3 separate regions of the Homo sapiens genome follow, and all the other regions are linked to region 2. Evidence: fine-mapped expression QTL. A gene starts in region 2. Each other region holds a variant in brackets. All regions are shown on one strand. Distances are between the middles of the regions.

Region 1 (8,153 bases), 92 kb before region 2:
CTCAGCTACACATCAAATTCATACTATACTATTCAGTTTCCATTAGTAATGCCTATGACATTCTTTAATGGCTATTGAACAGTCTATGCTAAATGAGAAAATTCTCTCTATCGTAGATATCATATAAAATCAGTAGTACTATCAAGCCATAGAATGTCTGCTTTTCTAAGATATCAAGAAACCTGAATTAGCATTAAGATTCCTCCCAGAAGTCAATCCCTGGCATAATGTAGACTTTGTCTTATTATCCTTATGACATCAAATATTTTAAAAATACATAATGTCATGAAACTATGCGATGTTTGCTGGTGGCTAGTTGATCCTCCACACTGAACTGTGGCTCACAGCATCTTGATGTCACCAGCCTGATAGTGCAAGGAGAATGAATGGTAGAGTGAGGAGGAAGGAAGCAAAGCCAAGCTTATCTATCCATAGGTAGCACACATCAATTCAAGAGCTGAGCACAGGCCACAGGGAAATACCAAAAGGATTAAAGTGCATATATTCCTCTGTTCTATGTGCATACAAACAGGCATTTATTAATTCAGCTGTTCTGTCCTCAAAAACCAGGAATATTTCCAGGTGTGGGGCTAAAAAAGGAAAAAGCAGAGGAGAAGGATGGGAATCAGAGTCTCCATTCTATTAACCTTGACTGTGCCCATATGCCTTCTTACAGCTCTGAGGAAATGGAAGCCAAGATGCTATAAAAAGGGAGGATAGCAGAAACTCCCAGGTGCTGTTAACACCCACTCCAAAGTAGGGATGCAGAATAAAGCTTCGAAAGCATTTGAATGGTATAGCCATGGGTCAAATTCCTATCTGTCTCCTTATGTCACAGCAGGGAGAAGCATAAATGCCTGGGTCTATTATTCCAGAGTAGAACCTGGTTCTATTGTCCAGTCAACTGTAATTGGCTCACCATCCCCTGATGATATATATTCATCATGATATCATGATCAGCACTCCACTGAAGCACAATAAAATAGGAAAGGCCTGCCTATGTTTCTTGAAACTTTTATTTTATTTATACAATATATACACATATATTCATACACACTGTTTCATGATACATTTATTTCTTCCTGTGGTCTCACTTAGAAATAAAACTAATTAAACTGCCAAACAGCTCTCCTATTGGGATTCTGCATTATTCTATAAAAGCCAGAGTTAATAGGTTTGAGAAACATTGTTTTGAGGGAGAGCAACTACACTAGTAGTTTTTTCTCTAAGAGCAGAGATGAATAAAACTACTGACTCATGCAATTTCCCATTGCCATACTCTAAAATTCCTCAGTGTGAATCTAATCTGTGAAAGACAGCTGTATCTCACTTTTATATATTTGTAATTATTAAAAAACTACTTCACCATAGACAATGTGGCGTGTCTACAAACAAGGGTATGGGCATGTGTGTGGTTAGTGGTTAGAGGATAGTCAACTTAGGAGGTTAATATTGGTGGTGCCTAATTATGAATACACATCCCAGCAATGGTTGACCAGCTCTTAATCTAGTACAGTGACTCAATCCTGGCTCTACATTAAGATCATCAGAGGGCTTTCAAAAATATTTTAGCAGTTATACTATTTTATTTTTAAATTATCATACAATAAAATCAATATTTTATTTGTTGTACAGTTTAATATTTTATTTTGTTGTACAGTATTCTTTTGTTGTATAGTATATTTTATTTCTTTTGTTGTACAGTTCAATGAATTTCAATACATGTATAGATTTGTATAACTACCCCCACAACCCAAACACCATTTTACTACCCCAAAAAATTCTCCTGTGTGTTCTATCCCTTCAGAGTCCCAATCTTCTCATAACTATTACCCCTATCAATCATAATTTGTTGAGAAGCTTTTAAAAAATATTAATGTCAAGCTCTGCTCTCAGAGCTTCTGATTTAATTAGACTGGGGTGAGGTCTGGAGGTCTTTTTTAAAAATGTAATACACAGCCAGGGTTGAGAAACTGGTGCTCTCATCGAAGTCCACATTCTGAAGGCTGCTACCATAAATGCTTCCACTATCTTTATCTCAATTCAGCATTAAGTGTTTCGTTGGCCAGCATTATGGATATTAAAGACTTCTTTTCATTGGGGAAATAGTGTTCAAAATATGTGAATGAGTTGTAGGAATTATGGTACAGGCACCTCTACCCTCTCACAAAGAGGTATGAGGATCTGATAACTCCAACACCCATTGCAGAAGAACATATGCCTCTTAAGGGAAGGCTTGGGCACAGGATGTAACTACAGGTTTAACAGAATTCTGCTCCTAAAATATTATAGGATTTGTCCTGAGCAAATCCTTCATGCCTCATGCCTGTCTAGAAAGCCTGAAAAGATTGGGAACTATAATTTCATTGGGCCTTAAGAAAAGTTTAGATGTCTGTTTCGACTTGCCTGTAAATATTTGCTTTGCAGATTTGGTCTGAGACTTGCTTTCATTGTAATTTGCCATCTGGTAGAGAAATGTTGAGGTGGGAAGCTTACTCTTTCCAACTCCTAACTTACAAAGCAGTAGTTCTCAATCTTGGCTGCACGTTAAAATCACCTAGGGAAATTTAAAAATCCTGATGCTCAGACTGCAACGCAGAGCAATTAATTCAGAGTCTCTGGGAATGGGATCCAGGCATCATTATTTTAAAACTCTCCAGGTTTGTAGCCAAGGTTGAAAGGTTACTAATATCTGCCAAAATATTATCTAATAATTTTGAACATATAAATTGGCTTAAATTTATTCAGCTCATTAAGCTGAATTCCATCTTCCTTCACCAACACATCTAAACCTGTCTTCCAGCAGAGCAGCTGGCTGGCTGCCCAGTAACACCATGCAGCTGCAGATCATCTTTACCCCTGACCTCTCCCTTTTGAGTCATAAACTCTGCCTAGAAGATATATCAGTTATCTATTGTTGTGTAACCAATTACTCCCAAACCTAAAAGAATAAACATTTATTTTCACATAGTTTGTGTGGGCCAGAAGTCTAGGATAACTCATCTAGGTGGTTCTGGCTCAGGGTTTCTAAAAGGGTTGCAGTCATGTTGCAGTCATCTGAAGGCTTGACTGGGGCTGGAGGATCTGCTCCATGCTCACTCGTGGCTGTTGGCAGGAAGCCTCAGCTCCTCACAGGCTGTTGGCCAAAGGCCTCAATTCCTTGCCACATGAATGAAGGTCACATTACAAGGCTGTTTGAATAGCCTTATAACATGGTAGCTGGCTTCCTTCAGAGTCAGTGATCCAAGAGAGATAACATGGAGGAAACTAAACTGGCTTTTATGACTGAATCTCTGAGTCATACATGGTCACTTTCCTTCAGTTTTATTTGTTTGAAGCCAGAAACTAAGTCTAGCCTATGCTCAAGGGAAAGGGAACTAGGCTCTATCTCTTGAAGGGAAGACTATCAAAGATTTTGTGAACCAATTTTAAAACCATTACAGAAGATAATTGACCAGGTTTTACAGAATATAAAATGTATTTTGACTCTCTTTATGAAATAGAGTCTAATTATACTAGGGTATATAAACTTAACAGGAATTAGATACCCACAGAACCCAAAACACTCAGAGCTAAGACCACAAATTTGAATTTAATGTATTAATACACAGCTATTGTAATTGGTATCCATACTTTAAATTTTGAAAGAAGAAAGGACACACCAGATCAAAAGATATCATCTCATCTCGTACAAGCCCATGTTCCAATGAACTAGTTCTTTAAAAGATATGTACTTTATGAGACATGCTATGTATGCGTTAATAACAGATAAACAGAAATGACACTGAATTTCAAGCTCCATTAGTAACATACAGGGAATGGGGAGAACAAGGTCAGCCAAGATGGTAAAGGACAAAAGGATTTCATTTCCAATTATTTAAAATAGTGTACAAATGTAGCAACAAAGATAATGTTGAGTGCTTGCCAATTTAAAATAGAAGGGATTATAACAAAGAACCAGAAAGCCTTAATAGCTGATGATCTCAAAATCTTCTATTGTGTGTAGAAATAACTGTTTTTACGACAAATATTTGGACCATGTAGACCAGGTGTTTACAGTCTGAGGACCAAACCTGACCTGCTTTCTGTTTATGTAAATAAAGTTTTATTGGCACACAGCCATGCTCATTCCTTTACCTATTGTTTCTGACTGCTTTCACAGTACAAAGGCAGAACCGAGTAATTTCAAAAAAGGCTCCACGGCCTGAAAAGACTAAGAGATTCACTGTCTGCCTTTTACAGAAGTTGTTTGCCAATTTTTGATGTAGACGAAACAATGGGGATACAAGAGTACTCATAACTTCATTAACGATAATCCTTAAGCTTTTATCACAGATCCTCTGGGCCTCAAAGACAGATCCAAGAAGAAAAAAGATTTTTTTTTTAAAAACCATGTCATTATTTATTAAAACTTACTACATTTGAGGCCAAAGGACTAAAAGTTAATCAAAATATTTCCTTTGTCACGCTAATATTGTTCTGCTTCATAAAATGTATAATGCTGAAGTAAGCCAGTTTTCTTTAGTTTGGTCAGTTTAAGATCCTCAAACTAGTTAAGATATAAAGGGGAGGGAGATTTTCTGGCAAATAAAATCATAGGAAGGCAGAACATGGGAATTTGAACACCATTTACTTTCTTTGTGCCTTTCTCTGACTCTCTCCTTTTCCTGCCTTCTCCTGTCTCCTCCTTCCCTCCATTCCTACTCCTTTTTATGTATTGGCATCATTCTTGTCTGCTGCAACTTGGTTTTCTCCACATGATGAGGACTATGACTCCTGCAATCTCCTGGTGTATGTGTTTCACGCCATCTCCAAAGCATCTAGACAGCATTTCTCTTATTCAGCCTCAGTGCAGAAATCTCAGACTGAGAAATTGAAGGGCTA[C/T]TTTGGGACATGCTTGCTTTCCTCCATCAATCACTATGGTCTAGAAGATGGGGTCTAGAAGATGGGGTCTAGAAGATCAGGTTTTGGCCTACTCCTGTGGTTACAGGACCTGCTACAAACGAGGGGCAGAAGTGATAGTGTGGAGACAAAAGGCCAACCAGTGGATGAGCACATATCCTATTCCAATAACAACTGGCCCTCCTATCACAGTCACAAGACCCAAGGAACGTGTTACAGATATAGCATCTATTCCTCAGCTTAGGCAGGCCTCTTAGCAATCACAATTAATTATTAAATATATTCTAATCTGAAAACCTCTCTAGATTTCACAGATTCATTCACTGGTTTCTCAAGAAATTCTTTATTCTTTATGCTACAATTGATGCTTCAAAGAAGAGACATACAATGTTATTTCTTTCTTTGACTATCTCTTTCTTAGATCAAGTAATTCCAATATCTTGGTTCCTCCTCCAGAGCCTGTGGCTGAGACTTCATTCATTTTTCGACCCTCTTAGTACTTGTTATTGCAGAATTTAATATATACCTTCTTAATATATGAAACTCAGAATGTGACAATGGACAATGATCCAAACAATCCTTGATATATTTGAAATTAACAGTGGAATCAGACTGAGCTGGGAAGAATTCCTAGCTCTGCCATTTATTAATATGTGTCATATGGTCTTGAAATAATCAATATTTCCTTTTTACAGATGAGGACTCTAAGCTATCAATTTAAAAAATATTTATTGAAAATTTACTATATGCCAGTGCTTGGGATACAATAATGACAAGAGAAATATGGTCTCTACTTCCAGAATATACATGTCAAGGAGAGTATAGACAAATGTATAGACTGCTTCCATGCACTGTGATATGATATGGATAACATGGGTGCTATAGAACAGAAGGGTATGCATCCCAGACTCAGGAGTCAGAAGAGTGGGAGGTAGACTCTTCCCAGAGGAATTGGTATCTAAGATGAGACCCAAAGCAACCAGCCAGGCAAAAGAGAGAAGAGCAAATAAGGGTTGAACAGTGTTTCCGGGGAGGGTAGGTGGCAAATATACCATGATATAAGAGAACATGATGATTTAAAGGAACTGAATGTAATTCAGCTATGAGTCCAAAATCTTCAGGTGGCAAGTGACAGAAATGCAACTAGGTCAAATGAAACAGTAGATTTTATCAGATCATTAACTAACCTATAGAGAGACTTGGCTGGCATCAGGGATGGCAAGATATAGGGACTGGAAAAAATGCCACAACTCTCTCGTCATCTCTGCCTCTAACTTTTGCATATCTTTATAGGTAAAATTTGTTGTCTACTTTTATAGACTATTTTTTTTCCACACAACGAAGTAAATGAACACCAGAAGCACTGAATTCATGACATAGTAGTTTTACCATTGGGAGAGAAAACAGAGCTGCTCTCTTCTATTTGCCACAGCCTGCAAAAATGCCAATGATTGTGCAGCGTATGAGATTTTATCCACCTTACAACTAACAAGTTTGCCTGCTGCAGTTTCATGGATGTTGGCAGAAGGAACTACACTGCTGGGTCAGAGACAAAGGACTCCATTTCTAATGATCCAGCAGCAGTCGTGAGCTTCATGTTCACATCAGTTCCCCTTAGTCTCCAGGTGCCATGAGGTCCATGCAGAGCAGCCCAAGTGGATGTTGCACACACAGTGGGCATCTGTCATAGCTGAGGATCTCTGATCTTAGGAAACCCTCATCTTACAAAGAAGCTGCTGTCAAACCTGTCTAAACTTTTTCTCAAAGGAAGACATCATCTTTATTATTCAAGTCAAGAAACAAATCTGCCCTCCAACCCAGAAGGAGATACTATCTCTAGCTTCCAAGGCTTTTTGCTGTGCAGGTATCATTGAAAACACAGTCTAGGATAAAAACTGTCACAAGCTGCGTAGAAACTCCATGGAGGGATTGGCTTCCAACAAAAAATTCCAGGGAAGGAATCAAAATTGATGTATTTGAGGTCAAGTGCCTGTCCTCTATCAAGCACTTTGTCCAAGGAGATGGGATAGTATTACGAACACTGCAAAAGTCAATTTCCCATCCACACATGGGTTAAGGTCAGACACCAAGACATTAGGAGAGGAATGTGCTTGACAAAGATTAATCACATTTATTATGATTCAGTATTAGAAGGGATAAGATGGGGCCAGATCATAAAGAATTATGTAGGTTATGTTAATTAGTTTGGATTTTTTCCTATGAGCAATAGCAATTTGTTAAATTTTATAATGGGGTAGGTGTGGTATCCTTAGAAAAATCACACTGGTACAGATTTTAGGGATTGGCAGTAGAGAGTAAATGAAGAAATGAGTTAGAGAACAGTTATATTAGTCCATGTGAAAGGTAACAGGGGTCTGAACCAGAATAGTGAGTATGGAGAGAAGTGGGCAAATCTGAGGATATTTTTGGTAGCAGTCAAAAGGAGAGAAGACAGAATCAAGGACAAACAACATGTTTTTGTTTTGGGAAACGTCATGAGTTGAGACAGAAAGCCTAGAAAGAGAAGCAGGTTTTAACAAGGTAAATTCAGTTTTGAAACTTACATATTTTACATAGGATGGGACACAGAAAGCTAGGCTAAGGAAATGGATTCAAGACATTTGTATAACACATAGATGGGAAGAGGATTGAACAGAAAAAATACCTCTAGTACAAAACCTGAGGAACACTAATATTGAAAGAGCAGGCATAAGAAGAACCTGTAAAAAAAGATAATGTAGTCAGTATGCTAGGAAAAAACTAGGAGAAAACAGTAAAACAGAAACCACAGAAGGTGATTGAGAAATAGAATTAACTCACTCTTTTTAATGGCTGTGTAAGATGACATAGTATAGATGTACTACAATGTAATAGAACTAAAAACAAAACTAAGCATTAAAAGAAGTTAAATGTTAAGTGCTTTGGAAGACAAGGTTCTTCAGTTGTGAGAAGCGGATTCCATCAACCTTACAGGAATACTGTGGGGATTGAAGTGGATCCTATTCACATACTTCTTACACTATGAGGGCATTCAATACACGTCAAGTTTTCCTTTGTAAAATTAAGTCACTGGCACATGTGGCTAAGATTATGCTTTTACTCCTAGAACTCTTCCCAATCACTCTTGCAAATAACCAGTCATTGCATGTGTACTAGTTTTGTTGTGCCCCGTTATACTCATTGCCAATAAACGTGCCTTCCTCCCACAACCCCCACCCCCCACCCCGACTATACTCTTGGTACCAAATCCT
Region 2 (8,191 bases):
GATAGATAAACAGGCAGACATAGATATTTTTATAGTGGAAGGGGTTTGCCTAGTCTCTGACCTTTCTGCATGCCATCCCCACCATCTTCTAGTTATGGGGCTCTTCTACAATAAAACTTGTTAACTTGGGGTTACAAGTAACCCACTTTCAAAGGAATCTATGGAGTATAATCTATTCTTAAACTGAAGGTGACCTAAATACGCTCACTTAACGAACGCACATCATCAGATTATAGGTCTAAACTACTGAAATTTTTTCAAGAGTCATTTTTAAAAAGACCACTCTTTTTAAAGTCATTAATTCTGATCTTAATCCAAGCCAGGTCAAGCAATCCCACCTAACTAAACAAGTATTAAGACTGGAGAGCCTGATGTCCTAAAAGCCCATCTATGCAGGTGGTACACAGTGCTGTTGAGTAAAATGTCATTTGTCTTGGAAAAGGGAAGCAAAAGTTGCATACCACCAGAAAATGTACATTAAATGGCTTACACATGGGAAATCCAAAATAAATGCTACTGAAGTCAAAAGTGAATCCACAAAAAACAAAAACAAACAAAAAAATACTTTAGCCTGCTTGTGAAATAATTATTCATGCACAATTATACTGCAAGTTTTGTAGCACCATAATTAGAGAGGAAATGACAAAAGAATAAATTAAGAAAGGGACTTTGAAGCCACTTATTCAAATTAGGTAGAACATTTCCATCTGCTGCAAAACAAAAGTTGTATATTTTAATGATCCTGTATTACCATTTACCACCTCTCTTCCCCACTACCACCACCACCACTAAAAAAAGAAAAGGCAAATTAGAAAAGAAATTTCTAAAATTTCAAAATGAAATACTGCAAATAAAGGCCATTATTCAGAAATTAGGGCCTCAGTCAACAATATCCATCGTCCATCATAGGCCGTTGAGGCAAAGGAGCTACTTGAACAAAATATTTTCTTGTTTTATTTGGCTTTCAAAAAGCAAAGACACAGAAGCAAAGTCTCAGAAAGACAAAAGTGCCTGGGATGAACTTACTCGCCACAGTTCAGAATAATTTTTGTTTGTTGTTTGAATAAACATGCATTGATTCCCCTAATGAGTGTCAGGCACAGTGTGGTGCTGAGGAGGTAATGGTGAAAATGACAGCCTTTGCCCTCATGGGACTCCTAAGAGACCAAGGCACACACAACCTCATATAATCCACCATACATGCCCCTTCCAGCCATGTTTATGAAAATCTAGTCCTGTTATACTATTAGACGGTAAATTTTTCCCTTGGTCTGACTCCATGGAACTTCACAGGGAAGCAACTGATACCTTGTAAATAAATAAGTAAACAAATATCCATATTCTCATACCAACAATAACTCATGGGTAAATTTCAATGAGTTTAAAGAAAATTTTGTGAACCTAAGAGCGTATCAAAACGGGTTTTACTTTTGAACCAAGCCGAGCCATATATTTTCATTGCCTGTGGCTATGCAGCGTCAGTAAGCTAAAAATACTTTTCTTTCTTCTAAGTTGGGAAGAGCAAGTTAAGTCCAAACAATCGGATGTGTATCATTTTCTCTCATCTTAAATTTTTTACTAGAAAACACTCAAAATAACTGAAGCAAAGAAGAGGCATCTGTTTCATATCTGCACACACATACACAGAAACATCCCTCTAGCTTGCATCTATCTACCTAGCAATATTAAACAAGCTATATTTGCATCATCAGCAAAGTCTGCCAACATTTCACCACTTACAGCTATTTATTATTATTTTTTGGTTGGGGAGAAAGCTGCATAAGTATTGAAAACTAACCACAAGTAAAAGCTTGCAAAAAAAATATGTATAGGATACGTCCTTAACAAGAGGACATGGTGCTGACTTTGAATTTACGTTAAAAGTAAATTCAAATTCAAATTCTGAATTTACATTTAAAGTAAATTATGTTTGTGAAAATTACATTAAATTAGATTCTAAAATAGGATAGAAACTTTAAGTTCTTCTACAGGTCTTGCTCAAGTTGGGTTTGCTGTGCATGGCAAAGTGAAAACCTGTGTTTCTCCTCTTTGGCTTCCCGAAGCTAACTGTAACATACATGCATCTCTGTGATGAAGTAAAAGCTACTTAGGAAGACAAGTAAACCTGTTTTTAAAGAAATAAACTACTGCAGGATGGTGAATGGTATGTAGTGTGGACTTTTCCCACACATCCAGCATCTCTAAAGACATCCTATTAAATTAAAAGAATAAGAAATAAGAAACTAGCAGGTCCAGATCTAGGTTCCTTCCATTCGACTGGGCCATGACTTTAATTAAGCTGCTGGGTCATGGCTTAATTTTCCCTTGAAAAACAGCACAGTTTGAGAAATCTCTGCCAAACTCTTCATTTTTTAAGCAACTGACAAAGTCAACAAGAAAGCAAATACCTAGAATCCACGGAACAATGCTCCTCAGAGCAGGGCTGGCAGAAGCGGCGGAGGGCTACCAGTTTCCCTGCCCCGATTGCAGCTGGGCCTTTGACAAGAGCTCGGGTAAAGGACTATCTGTGCACCCGCCCACCAAACGCCCAGCGGGACGATGGGCTGGTGCTACGAAGTTCTAAACCTAACCGCTGGGAGGAAGAAGCGGGAGGATGAGAATGTCATCTCCCCTGACACTCTGGTGCCGGCAGTCCTGAAACGCTCACCTCTGACGTCCCTGAAGGTCAGAGGTGGCAACCACAGTGCCAATAGCTCACCAAAGCCACTTTTCCTGCCCGGGTGGAGGCGCGGGGCAAAGTTGGCCACCGGCTGCGCGCGTCCCGTTAGCCGTACCTTGTAACTGGGCGGAGAGGGACTCCTGGTGCTGCTGGTACTTGAGCGCCACCGCCTCGGCTTTCCGCAGCTGCGTCTGCAGCTCGTAGTAGAGCATCGCGCCGTAGAGAAAGCCGAACACGACGGTCAGCAGCAGCAGCGTCTGGAAAATCCGCTTCTGCTTTCGGGAGCACATCCCGTTTCCCATAGTCCCGCCTGGACCCAAAGCCGCGGCCGCCCCCGCCGTCTCCTCCCCTTGGTCCGAGCGAGCGTCTCAGCAGCGGCCGCCGCAGTAGGTGGCCAGACGCAGCATGAGGAGGAGATGCCAGACACAAAAGCCGGCCCGGAGGGGAAGTGGCGCCCGCTCAGCCCCCGCGCGGCGCGGGGCGCGCAGCCATCGACGCCGCCCGGGCAGCTGCAGCCAAACTTCTGCGAGGCTCGTTCTCCGCGAATGCCCGGGGCCGGGAGGAGGCCCTCCGCATACTTCAGAGCCGGCTGCCCTCGCGCCTGTCCCCAGATGCCTCCTGCCTTTTTTCCTTCTTCCCACTTTTTGGCCCCGCTGCCCCCGGGCAGTTCTTGGAGTCCCGCCCTGGCCACTCCCCGCCCTATCGCGGCGGCTCCCACTGCACGACTTTGTTGCCACCTAAGGGAGGGGGTGCGCGCCCAACAAAGGGACCAGGACTCCGGGCCGCGCCCCCGTGCGGCCTGCCCAATGGGTGGAAGGGTGGGGGCCAGCTGTCTCGGCTGGTTTTGGGGACGGCACAGCGGTGTCACTGACGGGTCGGCTGGTGCCTCTGCCGCCCCGCCACCTCCTGCCCAACTTACGTGTCACCCACGGCCCGGCTATTCTGGCCAACGGGATTCCGGGAGGAAGTCCCACTCGGCCTCCTTGCTCATTGGGCCCGTCCGAGCAGACGCTCCCTCCCTTCGGGGAGGCAGTGCCGGGCTCGATTGGATGCCGGCTTTGTCCGTCCGACCCCAGGGCCGCACCTTCCCTCCCAGTGCCGGGGCCGGCTAGGGGCTCTGTGGGCAGCGCGGCCGCCTGGCGCCGGGGTGCGCCCACGTGGAGTCGGAGAGGGTGGGAAGAGGCAGGCGGAAGGGCGAAGGGCGGGGAGCTTTGGGTGGGCGGGGGACTTGTCCGGGCCTGAGTCTGGGTGAGGTTCGGTGAACACGTGTGTGTGTGTGTGTGTGTGTGTGTGTGTGTTCCAGTTCTCGTTCGGAACGCACGTGGAGAGCGGAGTAAAATGTGTGTATGAACGAAAGAATGGATGGCAGTAACTGTGTGCACTCTGCTGAGTACACTTTCTTTCCCTGTCCAATAAACTGATGCGGCAGACACATGGGATAGCTACATAGCACAATCCCGGTAGTCAAACCAGAGATGCCATGTCGACTGCCTTACCCCATCCAGTGTACTAGCCTAGATGTGTGTGTGCCCACAGATGGCCCGGCAGGAGTCGGGAGACTGGAAGCACGCTAGACTTAATGTTCAATTGTCCACGTGGGCTGGGGAAATCGGCTTGCCATTGGCAGAGAGGAAAGAAATGGTCTCACATTTCTCCTCTAGCTGCAAATAGAATAATTTAAAAACAAATCGTACAGACTGAAATGAGTATCCATTCATTTTGTCATATGTATTTGTTTTATTGGTGGCAAAACACATCAGTTACATTTCTAAATTACATTTTAAAGGGCAACAAAGGTTCCCTATGTAAAAACTAGTACAGCACAGGAAAGGTAGTAACCACAAACCTCTTCGAAGAAATGTATACTGCATTTATTTTTTCTGTGTACTTGAGGGGAATAATTAAGGTTATGCACAAATGATAATTTTTGTTTCTGCTGTTGACCTGAATTCTAAGAAAAGTAAATTTTATCTGTCTGTATAGTGTGGTGTAATTTATGATACACTGCATAATTTTTATATTCTAACTGGACTTTAGTCGTTACCATTGCTAATGGGCCTGAGTGCTCAAAATGGGGGTAAATCTCTTTAGCTAAATGCAACAGAAAGACAGTTCCTGGTGCAAAAGTTTTTTTAGGTGGACTCTGAAATTATAGGTTGCTAAAGCCCTAAAATAAACTGAATTTATAACGATGCTACCCTGTGGCATTTATACCACTGTAAAAATAAAGTGTGTCTTGCATGTGCTTTTCCTTAATAAATAATAACTTGCGTTAAATTATTCAAAATGCTTTCGTGTGCAGATACACTGTCTCACTGATCACAGCCAGGGTGTTAGACTTTCATGTTGGTAAAGAAGCCAAAGTTTATCAAAGTGACTATGACAGCTCTAGGACCTTTTAGGTCTTGCATAAAGTTAGTTACTCAGCAAGATTAGAATCCAGATCCAAACCCTGCTCTATGTCTTTTTCTTCAATAGAAACAATGTTCTCATTCTATTAAACAAGTTACAGTAAGAAATTATATCTCCATTAACATGAGAATCTGATTGTAAAAGAAAACAGTCTAAAGGAGTTTGGGAGTTTTGTTGTGTAAATACTACATAATCTTCCTTATTATTAAATCTACCACTTTAAATTCCTCTTTTTTAGTTTGACTCTCAGAAATTAACATTGGATAATTACTGGAATCTCTTTAAAATTCCTCATAACTAAACATTCCTTACTGTTGTCAGAGTACTTTGTTAAACAAACTCTTCCTCCAAAAACACTATCCAAATTTAGGCTGGGCATGGTGGCTCACTCCTGTAATCCCAGCACTTCTGGGAGGTTAATGCGAACAGATCGCTTAAGTTTGGGAGTATGAGACCAGCCTGGGCAACATAGCAAAACCCCTCCTCTACAAAAAAAAAAATATATAAAAATTTAGCTGGGCATGGTGGCGTGCACCTATAGTCCCAGCTACTCGGGAAACTGAGTTGGGAGGATCCCTTGAGCCTGGTAGGTAGAGGTTGCAGTGAGCCAAGATCACACCACTGCACTCCAGCCTGGGCGACAGAGGTGAGACTCTGTCTCAAAATAAATAAATATATAAATAAATAAAGTTTATGGCAATAATCTTGCCCCATATTTGAAGAGAAAATTATCCTAGCCACAAAAGAAAAAGAAGTTGTATAGAGGGTTGGAAAATTATTGCTCATATATTGTACAATATGTATTTTAGAATCTTTGGAAAATTCTTATGTTTCCTGAATGTATGATTCATCTTAAACCTCTGATTCCTTTGCATCTGATTCCAGACTCCAAAGATATTCTTTGCCTAAAGCTGCTGGCTGACTCTACAGAACATAATAAATGCAGGCCATAAAACACAACTCAATATTTTAGTCATAAAATTTGAAAGACAGCAAAAATTATTACCTGAACTTATCCATTATTTCAAATTCAAGAAGGGTATGTAGAAGTACATAAAATTACTAATGGTGGTATTTTTATAATATTACATTTCCAAGGTAAAGTATGCTGCTAGTTTCCTGAAAATGTCAGTATAGAGCTTTTGAGCGGCCAACATGAGGAAGCTATCCAAGGCCTATAAAATGAATTTACATAACATTGCCTTTGGGTAGCAATTATAACATAACAGCTGTTTATACTGGTCTTGGAAGGTGTGTTGTTCATTCTATTTTATTTTTGCTTCTTTGTTATTTTAAAAATAGTATATATAATTATATTTCTATATTCCATATATTTAACAATATATTTAACTTTAAATTATAAACCCTGAAGAATTTTACTGATTTAGTATTTTATTTCTGAGGCAGGAAGAAATTAACTTAAAGATACTCAAGGTCTTACATTTGAGAAGGGCAAATATAACATTTGGGAATATTAATTCTCTCTAACTTAAGTGAATTTGTCATTTTAATCAAATTTGTTCATTTTCAAAATAAGGGAAGGAAAAAATAAAAAGTTGAGAGAGACAGCTGACGTATAATTTCTAAAAGTAAGATTTTAAATTAATAATATTTAGGATCCTAGAGTAAATAATTTCTATTATCTAAATCTTTTATTTAAATTTCTTTACTACAAATGGAACTCAATATTTTGTAATTTGTAGGAGAAATCATCACCTAAGAAAAGGTGATGAATAGTAAATAAAATTTAAAATAGCTTTTCAGTATTAATAAACTAATTTTAATCTTTTCATCTGACAATTACAAAAGTTATTTATCCTATAAAACAATCTTCACTCTATGATGTCTTCACCTTTTTGCCATTTCATCAGTTTGCTGTCCCCTAATGAATACACTTGCCTTGCTGATTGCCACTTTTACCTGACCTGTTTTGAGAGGTAAAGAAAGCTGCATTCAAGGTATTATGTCTTTTTGAACATTTTGTGAAAGATGTTTTGAGACTCCTTTTTCATAGGATTTTGATAATGACCTAGTAGTAATTGTTAGAAGATTAACAAACTAAAAAGTAGGTCTGTGGTTGAATGCATAACTGAGTAACTGAACCCCACTCAATGTATCTTTATGCCTTGTTTACATCTGTCACTACGTTGCCACCTTTGTAATTTTCAACTATATCTGAAGAGGAGGGCAGAGGAGAAAGTAGATGATTTGTTCTTATTTATAAAAATGCTTTTCAATGAGAGAAACCTTACCATCAATATCACTAAGAAATACCTTCTGAGGCCGGGTGCGGTGGCTCACGCCTGTAATCCCAGCACTTTGGGAGGCTGAGGCAGGCGGATCACGAGGTCATGAGATCGAGACCATCCTGGCCAACATGGTGAAACCCTGTCTCTACTAAAAATACAAAAATTAGCTGGGCATGGTGGCGTGTGCCTGTAGTCCCAGCTGCTCGGGAGGCTGAGGCAGGAGAATCGCTTGAACCTGGGAGGCGGAGGTTGCAGTGAGCTGAGATTGCGCCATTGCACTCCAGCCTGGCAACAGAGCGAGACTCCATCTCAAAAAAAAAATAAATAAAATAAAATAAAAATAAATAAATACCTTTTGAATACAGACTACTAATAATGGACGTGATTTAGAAGTCCCTATTTGCCACAGGATGTGTAGCTAGTCTAAAGGAAGAGGAACTATCATTTCAAACCTCTAACAACATTCTAAAGCAGGATATCTAGCCAACCCTAAACTTTTCCAAATTCTAAGGCAGTATACGAAATCATTATGAATATGTTGCTTAATGTTTGTTACAGCTAGCATATAATGAGCTAACTACCACATTTTTTTTTCAGTTTAATTTCATAGGAAGTTAGAAAGAATGGAAAGGGAGCATATGTGAGCCTCAGAAGTGAACTTCCTAAATCTTCCAATGGCTCATCCAGCTTCTCACCAACTCACTGCCTTTAATAGTCAAAGACTTTAGATAAGCAGAGATACCACAGAAAAGATCAGTGGCCAGTAAAACATGACATTTTTTAATGTCCCCTCCCCCAAAATATTATAATTTATTGGATTGATTTTTATGAAAGCTATACTTAGTTTACT
Region 3 (8,191 bases), 180 kb before region 2:
ACATAGTTTGCATGTGACCATCATGACAGTAACATCACTGTTACTCTGTTGAGGGGTTATTGTCTACATAAGGCATGCTAGTCCTATGTTAGATTTAGTAGTTAACCATTCTCTTTAGGAGACAAGTAACAAGATGTTTATCTTTTGTATCCAGCTGCAGAATTTTAAATATGAGCAAAAACCATCTCATATCTTTCAAACAGTTACCAAGGATACCTCAGATACAGCATTTATCCTTGGCCGAAAACCACATTGAGACTCTTACTGGATTCTCCAGTTTACGGTGCACTCCACTGGAATCCCTTATTCTCAAGAGGAACCCTTGTGAGTTCCACCAAAATTACAGGAAGCAGTAAGGCCGCAGACACACTAAGTCATCTTTTGCACTTCATTGAATATTATACTTTTAACTATATTTTAAAATATTGTCCCTCTCTTGCTCAAATTTACCCAGCAAATACTTATAGAATCTACTCTATGTTGAACACTTCATGCTTCTGATCTCACCTAAAGACTTTTGAACTAATCTTTCTTCATCTTTTAACAATTTTTTCTTAATATACTCTTTTCTCTTGGTTAATTTATAGTTACTGTGCAGATTTTTAGGCTCCTTCTGTAATGACTTTACCTATACAAAGTTGTTTAATTTTAGACTTTCAAATTCCACATTTTCTCCCACATGCTTAATAGATATTATGTCTTTTAAAAAATTATACATACATATATATTTTATTAAGTTCTATGTGACAATTTTATAAATTGTTTATTCTCTGGTTTTACTTTCACTCTTTGGGCCCCAAGGGCAACATTAAGTGAATACGAAGAATTCAATTTACTCCAGTGCTTGAAAGAGCTCAAAAACCTGCCAAGAAGAAACCATTTTTATTACTTTGTCACAACTGGGAACATTCCTAATGATAATAATGGAACCTAAACCTTGAAGTGTGCACCCAGTAATATGCCCACTTATTTATCTCCAGCTAATTCCCAGTACCACTAATTAGTGTACTTAGGGGAATTAAAAGGATAAAAACAAGCAACTGAATTCTACAACCTGTATTTCCACCCATGACTGAGGTCATCTCCCCTCCCAGGCGAATCTGTCAAACAAAGAGTTATATCATCTCCAGGGTCCATTTATATCCTATGATTACAATCTTTTGTTTACTTCAATTTCAGTAAAAGACGTAGTTTTCACCATCTTCTTTTCTCACACTGCTCTTTTCCCATGAACAGCAACTGTATTCCAGAAGCCTATATGATGTTAGACTCTTCAACGCCTGACGTACAATGAAAATTTGTCAAAATAGAAATTATAATCTCTGTTGTTACATAAATCTCATTACTCCAGTTGTCTGCCCTATGACTGGAGTCTGGAAGCAAAATTTCATGTCTGTGATGATAATAAATTCTTAAATTGCTTTCACATAACAGTGAAAACTAGCAGCACAGTTGCTGTAATATTGAGCTAATATTTAACCATAATAATATTTTGGAGGTTTAAAATTATATTTCCTATAATCAAAGGAGGTTTAGCTGGACATTTCAACATCATTCATAAGAAAGCACAGTCCTAGTCATAAGGATAATTTAATAGTATTGTATTTCAGTTTTGTTAATTCATATGTGGGGTTTTATAAAGCATTTTGGTCCCAACTCAGCCACTTGCCTCTCTTCAAAGAATGCCTTACAATAATAGTATTAAGATGAATTGTCTGAAATTGGATATGCCCTGAGGTCTTACTGTAATTCCGTCTACAAAATTCATGATGTGGTATAGAGTTATGTAGGAATGAGGGATATAATGAGGTTCTTCTGTTTTTCCAGTATTAACTCTATTGGATTGAGTCCAAGGTGTATATACGCTGACTTTCAAGTTAGAAAAAGCCAGGTTATATTAACTTAGGTAGTGCAGGGTTACATTGAATAGAATGATGGGGTCATTTTAGAGTATGAAGAAAAGGTTTAAGCATCCACTCATGCTAAGGAACTAAGTTGGAATCAGAAGTTCATTCAAACATGGATTCAGTTACCCAGCCAAAAATCCACACCTTGAAGATTATAACAGCTTTCATTTTGTCACTGGGTATCTGTGTTGAGGATTTGGGCCAGAGCTTCAGATGACTCTTTTTACACACCATGCTCAGAATTATTTAAAGTACAAGCTTTTCTTGACCATTATCACCTAGAATTGTGACTGCTTTCCCTTCCTCCTTTGTTTCAGATCCACCAATAAGAAGACAGCACAATTCAAAAGAGAAAGGACTTAATGACAGAGCTAATAATGTAAATCCCAGTAGGTTAGAAGGTGGCCCCATTTCTGGGACACCTACAGGCAAACTTCTCTATCATTCTCTAGGAGTCAAACATGATATTAGTTCATTACTGCTTAACTTAAAAAAAAAATCAGTGGCTAGAAATTCTTGCCAGCTAAGTATGAATTTTGAAGCCAGAAGACATAGATTTTAATATTTGCTTTGTCACCTACAGGCCTTATGATTTTGAATAAGTTACTTAAAATGAGGGATAAAAACCAATCTGACAGAGTTGTTGTGAGGATTTAAAGAGATGCATAGGAAGCAATTCATGTTAAGAAAATCATGCAGCCAATGGGGGCTTTCAAGGAGGTCAGTTCCATCATTAGCTGACTTAGCATATCTGCTAAAAGGTTTCAGTATCTTTCATGCAGGCAAATTCAAATGCCATAGATTTCTCCCAGCCAGAGCCCTCAGAATTCCCAGATCTAGAAAAGCTGTCATTCTAAAGAAAATGCTGCTTTTTAATGCCGCTATGTACATGACCACTGTTAACTGGATTGAACTGAAGGATCTGTTTCTGAACATAGAAGTGACTCCCTGAATTTGAAATAGGAGCTTTAGAAGTGCTCGCTTTCAGGAAAAAATAACAGCATAATATTATTTCCCACTCCCTCTTTTATATTTATCAGCCAGAATTCTTCTTTAACTATCACTGAATATTGTGGGCTTGCTTTACTTTCTCTCTCTTTCTAAACTTTTAACTTTGTAATGAGCATATATATCATGATCTCATTCTTTCTCTCATGGTTAGTTGGCTAAATCCACTCATTGATTTTTTTTCCCTTATAAGACTGTAAAAACTGGAATGAAATTCTCTTATAAAAACAGATTGTAGACAGTCCCATTTCTCTGATCAATATTTACCACCTGCTGAAAGATCTATTAGATCCCTGAAAGGGCAAGCTATGGCAAGGTCATCAGGTCAATTAATATGAATAATATTTTATTTTAGCTCCACTGCAAAGATAAGCAACACAGAATGAAGTGATAGCCATTCATCTTCCTTATAACAATAGGCAAAGTCCATTCACTTATAAAGAGAATAAGTGAAATAAAATGCTTTTGTTCAATATAGTTTTTTTTTTTTTAACTTTTGCTTTAGAGTATTCTCCTGTTTGCCAAACTTAAAAATGCTGGATGGAATCTTGAAGCTACCAGAAGATTGCTTATCACCAGAAACCAATATTTTTTCAAAAATATGCCTTGTATCCTAATGCAGTCTGTATAGAAAGAAAGCAATCATCATTGTTGCTAAAAGCTAATAAACACAGGACATGCATGATTAAATATTGCAGTTTATTTTATATCTTTTTGCTTTTCTAAATCAAGGTAGGAAAATATTTTCTGTAAAGGACCAGATGGTAAACATTTCAGGCTTTCTGGGCTATATGGTCTCTGTCACAACTACTCAACCCTGCCATTGTAGTGCAAAAGCAGCCATTGATAATATGTAAATGTATGGGTGTGTCTGTGTCTCA[G/A]TAAAACTTTATTTACAAAATGATGTGGCAGGCTGTAGTACTGATCTCTGCTCTAAATTTTAATGTCACATGGTTGATTGCACTACTCTTCACCAATATCCATGTGCCTTCCTTGGAAGAGGTGTATGATTCCCTCACTATTGAAGTCAGTTATGTCAAGCAACTTGCTTTGAGGAATGAAATGTAAATGAATGTGATATAGGTCACTTGCAGGCAGAAAATTTGAGAAACAGTTTGTGCCTTGTCACACTTTCTTTCCTTGTGCCATACCAGTGGGCAAATTTCCCGATCAAGGCCTATCTGCCTAGGTCCTGAGGTAAACCTGGCATGGAGCAGAGCCACGGTCATTCTATAAAAGATGGATAGTCAGAGAGTAAACCTCTGTTATCATTTGATGTTGCACCATAGCCTACCCTCTCCCTACTAACACACCTCCTTAAATTTAGGGACTGCAACATAACTCATTCAATGATGTATTTTCCCCCCAGAACAGGATAGCAGGCACTTGAAATGTTGAATGAATGAATAAATGGCTATTGTAGGAAATTATTAATGAGTGGCAGAATTATCGGGTAGGATACAACTTCAAAAGTTTAGGTGAAATGGATACCACATGTTCTTAGTTATAAGTGGGAGCTAAACATTGGGTCTCATGGACATAAAGATGGCAACAAGAGACACTGAGGACTACTAAAGGTGGGAGGAAGAGAAGGGGAAAAGGACTCAAAAACTAACTATTGGGTACTATACTCAGCACCTGGGTGATGGAATAATTCAAACTTCAGCATCATCTAATATACCCAGGTAACAAACCTGTATATGTACTGCCTGAATCTAAAATAAAAGTTGAAAAAAAAAAGCTTAGGTGAAATATATTGAAAACTTTAGGGCAACAGTGTTGGAAATCGACGTTATAAGGGCATAGGAAATTGGAGAGTTATGACAGCCAACAAATCATTTTATTGTTTAAGCTACTTTATGTTGGGTTATCTGTTTCTTGCAGGCAAAAACATGCTAACTGACAAGAAAATCATGGGTTTTATACAAGGATAACAAGTGCTGGGTTGCTTAGCTATGAGGAAGGCTAGGCTCACTGGTAAGTGTCTCAAGATGTAGATCATGCTAATCTGAAGATATGTGTTGATGTTGCAATCTGATGTCCTGTACAGGTTCTATGAGCAGTTTGGCCGAAGTTGGTAATATCTGTCTATGCCAGAGTGGGACTGATTAGAAGACCTATAAACTAAATAACATCAAACCCCAAAGTTGCATCTGTCTACTCACTGTAGTGGCGGTAGTTCTACCAGTCATCAGTGGTGACCCATAATGACATATCCAATAATTGCATTGCTGTAGTTTCTAGTATATCTGCTCACTTGACCTTTGTAGTACTTTCTTGCATCTTCTATAATGCACAGAGATCTGAGCCACTCTCTCCTTGGTTTTAGCATACCAGAAGATGTACAGCGTTGGAGAATTCAGGGATTTTTATCAACAATCAAACTATATTTGTGGAAATTTTGTGCATAAGTGCCAAAGATGGCTGACATCGGACCACATTCTATTTAACTCAACTGAATGACACCAAGCTCTCATCCTAAAACTTATAGTTACATCCACCCTTCTGAAATATTTAATTATTCTCCAATACACTGGAGGTAATAGGTATAAAAAGAATGAGCATGTGCAACTTAGTATCTCATATCTAATTTTGTGTCCCAAGTTCATTCTTCCCCTGAATGTCCCATGTCTACCAGGTGCAGGATTATCTGGATGGGTCAGTTCAAAACAATTTCAGGGAATAAATTGTGTAGGGGACTCAATTTTCTGAGACAGAAACATAATGTGAATAACTCCTTTGTTAGAAAATAATTTCAGTGACAGAAAGCCTTTCAGTTCATAAAGAAAACTTACATATCAACAAGCCTAGCTCCTCACTAGTCCCAGTGAATGCTTACATCAATCAGCTCTACAATATCCAGTAAAGGACTTTCCAATTCGCCTTTGAATAAACTGAGGTATTGGAAACATCTAAGAAAATGGTTTTTAATTCTTCCTAATCTTCAGGGAGTTCTTCCTTATATTGAGCTGATATCTGCCCTCTGTAACTTTCAACTAATTATTCAAATCTCTCAAGTGATTATAATTAATTCCATCTTATAAGGAATTTTTCTCAGCTTCCAGCCTCTTGAAAATACTCTGATATTTTCTCTAATATTCAAGTGGAAATGTAAATGGGTAACGTAAGAGTCTGTGGGGTTAGGAGGGTGGAGGAAAGGTAAGGGAAAGCTAATGAGAAATAACCAAAGCAAGAAAAAGAATTTTATTTTCTTCAAGTTCTTTGTACATCCAAAGTGGAAGATTCCTAAAATAAATTCCCCATACCACATTTTAAAAATTAGGTTAGCAAGCTTACTTTTTAATTTATTTAGAAGCCAACTACTTCCATTTATTATTTCTTTCCAGAATAGAACAATTATCACTAATTGTTTGTCATTATAATGCCAAACTATGTTAATAGATGCCTATTTTTTTAAAGGCTAATTGCAATCATGAAACCAAATATCTAATTAGTTTTAGAGCTTTGGACCACATGCATCAATATTTGAATCATTCAGGTGTATATTTGCTTTCTGCTTTTTTGTCTCTTCAAAAGAAGTATTATATGCATTCTGTTTATAATTTCTAAATGGTCATTTCAAAACTGATTATACGAGTTTATACAAATCATACTGAAATTTGTTGCTTAAAAAATCTTCATTTTTCTCTAAGCTCTCAGTGTCCTTGAGCTATATATATTTTATGGCAATTTTTACTTAATAGTTTGTATGCTAGTTATTTTTGACAATGACTACTAAAATGCAAGTTTCTTCAAGGGCAGATTCACCTTAGTTCTTCTTTATACCCCTCAAAAACCTCAGGGTTATTCTCAATAAGTATTGAGTAGGTGAGTGAACTTTGGATGTATACTCCTTGAAATTATATTTCTGGAGCTGGAAAACTTTAAAAAAATGTATGTCATGAGTCTAAAGAAATAAACATTATATGGCTGAAAAAATACTTTGTGAAAACCAAAAATCTCATGGAATCATGAACTTATCTATGGGACAGATGTTAGCCCTGAGGTTGTTCTGGGCTTCTTTTCTACCCACTTCCCATGACCAAATCAGTTCACTAGTCAGCAGTTCTATCCTTCCTCTCCTTCTCCTTCCATCTAAGGAGCTAGAGCTGAACTGCTTGGCCACTGATTGCTGACATGCTGAGTTTTCTACAGCTGGAGTTTTCAAGAGGGCTTTGATTTTGCTTTCCCCAGTTTTCCTTCTTCCACACTTGAAAAGTGGTAAGGGTACCAGCTTTCTGTCTATCTCTGACTCTCTCTCTCTCTTTCACACACACACACACACACACACACACACACACACACACTTTTTTTTTTCTTCCACCCTCCTGCACAGCAGGAGACCTTGCCTTGATCTTTGAAGGTCTACAGCAAGTGGTCTAGGCTAACTCAGTGCTGGGCAAATGGAGCAAAAACTCTTTTCTGCTTCCTTGCCTCCATGTCTTTCAGAGCTAGCAGATACAGCTTTTGTTCTATAGGAGTGATTCTTTCTAAATGTCAGCTCAACAGGATGATGGTCACTCTTGTATATCACTTAGGCATGAGTTCTGTTGAATCCCAGCACAATTTACCAGACTTTGTCAGTGGCTTTTGGAGTAGCAAAGACTCAATTTTTAATAAAGTGTTATTTTGTTTAGCTGGTCATTGTCATCATCACTTATCTCTTTCCAGAAAATTGTGAGAGGTATTTTTCTAGAGAAGGATTTTGGTATTCCAGAGTCCTGTGGCTAAAACATCATGCTAATCTCAAGTTACTCTCAATATTAGAGTATGTGGTTACATATGAAATACAAATATGCTGATAGTTTCAAATTGAACATTGTATCTTATTTGACCTAAGTCAAAACCCACTATAAACCATCAAAGCAATATCTTGAATAAGTCTCATAGATTCCAGTCATCTGGATTCTCAATCTATTGCCAGTATGGTCTTAGATAGGTAAAAGATGTTCCCTATGCAGATCACATTACACAAAAAGCTAATAATATAGCAATCCCTTGTTGCCCAAATGAAGGATTAAAATAAGGAACTAATATAAACATATATTTATTGTCACACAGAGCTATAAAATGCAATGAATAGCTGAATATTGGTCTGTATTATTCGGAGTAATTATAGTCTCTCTCTTTTTGGCTTTCTAAAATAAAAATAAAGACACAGCAGTTGATCACTGAGTAAAAGACCTAAGATGCCTTTCAAATGAATTTGTACTAAGTATCCACAGAGTATATTGTCCACCATATTTTAGAAGTAAAACTCATTCTGATGAATTGTT

The links. PIP is the estimated chance that this variant, and not a neighbour inherited with it, causes the effect.
Region 1: its variant is fine-mapped to the expression of GOLIM4 in fibroblasts (GTEx, PIP above 0.99).
Region 3: its variant is fine-mapped to the expression of GOLIM4 in ileum (CEDAR, PIP 0.95).

What each region holds. Positions count from the first base shown.
Region 1 is chr3:168,000,025-168,008,177 of GRCh38, forward strand. No RefSeq gene overlaps it. Among named protein-coding and RNA genes, the nearest start is that of GOLIM4, 92 kb to the right of the region's middle. The variant C/T (reference allele first, on the strand shown) is at 4,885.
Region 2 is chr3:168,092,304-168,100,494 of GRCh38, forward strand. GOLIM4 (golgi integral membrane protein 4) reads right to left here and starts at 3,621. Exons shown (of 16, transcript NM_014498.5): 1 at 2,796-3,621. The coding sequence starts at 2,982. RefSeq lists silencers at 3,397-3,446, 3,737-3,976 and enhancers at 3,648-4,149, 4,347-4,396.
Region 3 is chr3:167,917,145-167,925,335 of GRCh38, forward strand. It overlaps the pseudogene LRRC77P. Among named protein-coding and RNA genes, the nearest start is that of GOLIM4, 170 kb to the right of the region's middle. The variant G/A (reference allele first, on the strand shown) is at 3,797.